2 separate regions of the Homo sapiens genome follow, and region 2 is linked to region 1. Evidence: fine-mapped expression QTL. A gene starts in region 1. The other region holds a variant in brackets. All regions are shown on one strand. Distances are from middle to middle. Region 1 holds the start of CLTCL1 (clathrin heavy chain like 1). Region 2 overlaps CLTCL1 (clathrin heavy chain like 1).

The links. PIP is the estimated chance that this variant, and not a neighbour inherited with it, causes the effect. A credible set is the group of variants that fine-mapping cannot tell apart.
Region 2: its variant is the best candidate, but not a certain one, in a credible set for the expression of CLTCL1 in subcutaneous fat (TwinsUK, PIP 0.55).

Annotation. Positions count from the first base shown.
Region 1 is chr22:19,290,260-19,293,168 of GRCh38, forward strand. It overlaps CLTCL1 (clathrin heavy chain like 1), which reads right to left and starts at 1,460. Exons shown (of 33, transcript NM_007098.4): 1 at 1,341-1,460. The coding sequence starts at 1,382. It overlaps LOC105372859 (a long non-coding RNA gene), which reads left to right and starts at 1,688. Exons shown (of 6, transcript XR_938002.3): 1 at 1,688-2,071. RefSeq lists an enhancer at 649-1,162 and silencers at 1,273-1,457, 1,339-1,578.
Region 2 is chr22:19,205,797-19,208,705 of GRCh38, forward strand. CLTCL1 (clathrin heavy chain like 1) reads right to left here. Exons shown (of 33, transcript NM_007098.4): 22 at 2,358-2,515. Among named protein-coding and RNA genes, the nearest start is that of SLC25A1, 29 kb to the left of the region's middle. The variant A/AT (reference allele first, on the strand shown) is at 1,214.

The DNA of each region.
Region 1 (2,909 bases):
CCATGTAACTTTTGCTGAAGGAATTAGAATATTAACCTCAGTGACCCATGGTAGAAAACAGGATATCACTATCTGCCTCAGTTATCATGAGGATTAAATTAAACCAGATTTATAAAATACAGTAGTCTAGTGAGTGGCAAGAGAAACGGCTCAGTAAATGATAACTACATCATCATCATTATTATGAGCAGCAGCAGTATTTTGCTACCTCAACATGACTGGTGCTGGCTTAGCTTAGTGGCAGAATGAAGCCCGGACAGATGTCAGGGCACTCCCACCTCCATACAACTTCCACTGTGTCACTAACCAAGTGACCCTGGCAGGATCCCCTGGATATCAAGTTTCCAGTCTGCAGAATGAGGGGACTGGACTGCACTACACAGTTCCCAAGGCTTTTCCCGTCTGCATCTAGGGCTAACAGTGCTCTGCACTGTGAAAATAGGAACTTTCAAGCAAGCACGTTCCTCGATGTACTACTTTGTGGTCAAAAAGACTTGAGTCTGAATCCTGTTCTTATTGAATGAAGATGAGTTCTTTAACACTTTTGAGACTCGGTTTCCTCATCTAGAAAAGAGTAAGCGAATCGCAACGAATGGTAGTGTGATGATTTAACACAGAGCACTCAGGGAGGAGCCGCTGGCTATCCCTCCTCTGCCGCACCTCCCAGGGTAAACGTGGGGACCAGCACCGCTCCCGGGCAGACCCGCGAGCGGCCCGCACGACGCCCGACCTGAGCCTTTGCTCAAAGCAGGGGGCCAGTCCTTATGTTTCTGAACACAAACAAATGGAGAACAAACTGGGACCTTATTAAAAAGGCAGGCTTTGGGGGTGTTACTGCATTGAAAAGCCCTATTTAGGCTTGGCCCTGAGAAATTTTTCTCTTGGGTCACGCATGTTCACGGTCCTCCCAGGCGAAGCCGCCCTGGGGACGAAAACCGATCACAGAGGCAAACTCAGGGGCGAATAAGGACCGCAGGACGCCAAGGAGGGGCGTGGAGCTGTGGGATCCGCGCGGCCCTTGGGTTGCCCTGCCTGCAGCGGGAATTTGTGTGCCTCCTCGCGGGCACTGAGCGGGGCGTCCCAGGGGGCGTTGGCTTCCACCCCCACCATTCCCCAGCCGGCCCCGCCGGTAACGGGCTTCGGCGACGGCACCCAAGCGGGTCCTCAGGAGCGGCCGCCGCGCCCGGGACGCCGCAGCCCCAGCCCAGGTGGGAGGTCGGAAATCGGCGCGGCCAGCTGGGCAGCGGCTCAGCGGGGCTGGGGGCGCGGGGTCAAGCCTGGCAGTCCGGCCCGGCGGAGGCGCGGCTGACAGGGCAGCCCCCCAGCCCGCCGGGCCTCACCTGGAAGTGCTCCTGAAAGCGAACAGGGAGGATCTGCGCCATGGCTGGTGCGGGACCTCGGCGGCGGCGGCGGCAGCGGCAGGAATGAACGCCGACCCCTCGCGCGGGCTGACCGGTGGCGACGGCGCAGGCGCAGTGCCCCGAGCTCCCGGTCCTGGCCCCCGCCCTCCTCCCTGACCGCGCCCCGGCCCGCACCCCCTTTCCCCGCCCCTTCCCCCGCCCCTGCCCCGCCCCTGCCCCGCCTCTGCCCCGCCCCTGCCCCCGCCCCTGCCCCCGCCCCTGCCCCCGCCTCTGCCCCGTCCCGCCTGCGCGGATCCCTCCGCCCGCTCCGAGGGTCCGCGGAAAGTAGTCCCGCGCGCCCTCTGCCCTGACGCGGTGTGTGCCAGCTACCCGAGTGAAAGGTTTTCGGGGGATTAATCCTGATGGGGTCTGCGGCGGCCCTTGCCCAGCGCCTTCCACATGTGGAGCGGGCCAGTGGTGCTAGTTCTGCCGCCAACTCTGGACGGTTGAGTTCAGGGCCACTTTTTACTCAGGCACGGATGTGACAGAAAGATGGAAAAGGGTCTTGGAAGAACCACATGTGCCGTATAACGAACGACCTTTTGGTCTGAGGAGGACCGTGTATATGACGGTGGTCCCATAACATGATAACGGAGCTGGAAACTTCCTGTCCTCTGGTGAGGGCTTAGCTAAGGACATTTCCTCTCCTGTATTTGGAGATACACGTACAGGTATGTCATTACCGTGCCAGGGGAATAACGCACCTCACACGCGGTGCGGGTTTGCGGCCTAGCAGCAGCGGACCGCATCAGCTGCCTAGTTGTGTAGTGGCTGTGCCATCTGAGTTTGTGTAAGTTACCTTGTGATGATCCCACAACCGAGACGCATGTCTCAGAATGCATGGATGCATGGGACGCGTGACTGTACGTGTTACAGACGTGTTTCGGCGTGAGGCTCGGCCCCTGCTCCTTTAGGAAACACCTTTCCTGGCTCATGCGGTTTCTAGAGAACACTGTGTCGGAATATCAATGTAGAGAGTCAGCGAAGGTCATCTAGCAGCAGATGACCAGCCCCAGGCCAGTGAGGATCACCCAGAGTGCCCGTGGCTGCACGACAGTAGTAGCAGGTGGAAGCTGGAGCCCACACCTGGTTTGCCCAGCAGCCAGTTGTTTTTCCGAGGCACCGTTGGCTGATGTTTTGCATACAGATGATTCAGCTGCATAAAAGATGTCTGTCAGGAAAGGGAAGCCCTTGGCATTCAGCACAGGCACTCCCTACGGGGTAATCGATAGCCGTCTCTGCTGCTTCCCATGTTGCTCACTGGTAATTTTAAGAAATGAACGGCCCACCTTGAATAAGACAAGGATGGTGCAATTATTTGCGCAATGGCTTGACCATCTAGTAGCCAAAAATATGTTAAGGAATAGAACAGACTGTTCACTTTCAAATTAAATCTCTTTTCCAGTATTAGCCAAGACCTCTGCAGCCCGCCCTTTCTAAAATCCATGTGGCCTCATCCGCTAAATATAGAGCTGGGTTTTGCTGTGGTTAGTACTACATTTCCCAAAT
Region 2 (2,909 bases), 84 kb before region 1:
ATATTTTTAAAAAATTTTAAGGAAAAGCTCAATTTTTACCTTTAATTCTTTCATCTGGAATTTTACTTGGTTACAGAATTACATGATGAACTTTTAACACCTTTCAAAACTTTAACTTAATTTCCAACCATTGTTTTTTTTTTTTTTGACACAGGCTTCTCACTCCGTCACCCAGGTTGGAGTGCAGTGGCACAATCACAGCTCATTACAGTCTTGACTTCCCAGCCTCCAGTGAGTCTCCCACCTCAGCCTCCCAAATAGCTGGGACTACAGGATGTGCCACAATGCCTGGTTAATTTTTGTATTTTTGGTAGAGATGGGGTTTCTCCATTTTGCCTGGGCTGGTCTTGAACTCCTGACCTCAAGTGATCCACCTGCCTTGGCCTCCCAAAGTGCTGAGATTACAGGCCCTTCACCCCCTTGTTTTCTTTTTGTTTGTTTGTTTTTTAAAGACAGGGTCTCGCTCTTTGCCTAGGCTGGAGTGCAGTGCCCCGATCACAGCTCACCCCGATCACAGCTCACTGCAGCCTTGACCTCCTGGGCTCAGGTGATCTTCCCACTTCAGCCTTCCAAGTAGCTGTGATTACAAGTGCATGCCACACACTCGGCTAATATTTTTTAGTTTTTTGATAGAGATGGGGGTCTCACTATGTTGTCCAGGCTGGTCTTGAACTCCTGGGCTCAAGTGATCTTTCCACCTCTATCTCCAGAGTTGGGATTAGAGGTGTGAGCCACCGTGCCCAGCCCCAACAACTACTTGGAACTTATTTTGAAATAAAAAGCTCAAAGTTCATTTTGTTATTTTTTTTCTTTTTCCTTTTTAGAGATGGGGGTCTCATTATGTTGCCCAGGCTGGTCTTGAACTCCTGTGCCCAAACGATTCTCGCACTTCGGCCTCCCAAAGTGCTGGGATTACAGGCATGAGCCACTGTGCCCGGCCCACTTTGTTGTTATTCATTTCAATAAATTGCATGCGTTCCTCCAAGAAGTGCACTTGTAACTAATATAGAGTTATAATACATTCCATTATCTCTTCATGTCTCTGCATCACATTTTCCAAGGGTAACATCTTATCTACATGGCGGACTCCACAATTATTTAGATCTTTTATTTATGGTTAAGGTTTATTTAAACATTTTGGCTTTATTCCTATTAAAAAAGGAATGTTTTCTTCCCCATTATGTTATCTGATTTTTGGTGACATAAACTACTA[A/AT]TTTTTTTTTTTTTTTTTTTTTTTTGAGACGGAGTCTCGCTCTGTCACCCAGGCTGGAGTGTAGTGGTGCTATCTCGGCTCACTGCAACCTCCATCTCCCGGATTCAAGCGATTCTCCTGCCTCAGCCTTCTGAGTAGCTGAGACTACAGGCGTGTGCCACCAGGCCTGGATAATTTTGTTATTTTTAGTAGAGACGGGGTTTTGCCATGTTGACCAGGTTGGTCGCAAATTCCTGACCTCAGGTGATCCACCCGCCTCATCCTCCCAAAGTGCTGGGATTACAGGCATGAGCCACCATGCCCAGCCTATTAATTTTCAATATATATTTTATGCATCCAGATTATTAACTCTGACTCAATTAATTTTGTTTTCTTGTAGTAAACAGAACGCCTGGATGTAAGTCTTCACATCTCTTCTAGGAGAATTATTCTGATGTGTATAGCCAAGAGCATGTCAAAATTCCATGGGTCTCAATTTCCATACCAATAATAGCAACAGGTTACTTACTTCCTCGTGTGGCTTGCTTCTCATGATCTTTATCTGCATCACACTAAAGCAGCGGTCCCCAACCCCCATGCCACGGACCGCTGCTGGTCTGTGGCCTGTTAGGAATCACGCCCCATAGCAGCAAGTGAGCAGCAGGCAAGCGAGTGAAGCTTCATCTGTATTTACAGCTGCTCCTCATTGCTTGCATTACTGCCTGAGCTCCGCCTCCTGTTAGATCAGCAGCAGCATTAGATTCTCACAGAGCACAAACCCTATTGTGAACAGCACACGCGAGGATCTGTGTTGCATGCTTCTTATGAAAACCTAATGCCTGCTGATCTGTCACTGTCTCCATCATCCCCAGATGGGACCATCTAGTTGCAGGAAAATAAACTCAGGGCTCCCACTGAGTCTACATTATGGTGAGTTGTAGAATTATTTCATTATATATTACAATATGATAACAGTAGAAATAAAGTGGACAATAAATGTAATGCACTTGAATCATCCCCAAACCACCCCCGACCTGTCTGTGGAAAAACTGTCTTCGATGAAACCAGTCCCTGGTGCCAAAACAGCTCGGGACTGCTGCTCTGAGGAACATCCCTGGACCTAAATCTGACTGGCAGTGCACAGCCCCCAGGGGGCATGGCCTACCTGCTGGATGTGGGCATTGTTGGGTCCATTAATAAAATCTTCTAGCTCAGAAACACGGCTGGTTTTAGCCAAGGCAAAAATAAGTTCAGTCTCTATATAGGACTCACGGCCCTTTTTCCTGGCCATCTGCAGAAATTTAACTAGATCCTCCCAGTTGTCTAAAGACAGAAAACAAAGATAGGTTAACCCAGAGCTGATAATTTTAAACAAGGGCTCAATTCCTCCCATTCTGTTCTCAGCCAGACACATTTACCCTCCAGTTATGTCTCACTGGGAACTCAGACTCCAGATAACGTCTAGGAGGTCTTGATTATGCTCACTAAGCAGATCCATAGCTCAGAAGGGAGGAGGGGAGGGGCAGAGCCACACTCAGGCCACCTCCCTTAGAAAAGACTTTGCCAGGAGACAGAATGCTTGTTCTGGACATCAGAGAGGTCGGTGCCACAATCAACTTGAAACACCAGAAGATCCCTGGGAATTGTGGGCCTGTCACTCACTTTAAAATTACTACAGTGGCGATATTGAGATATCTAGTGTGCTTAAATGACCTCA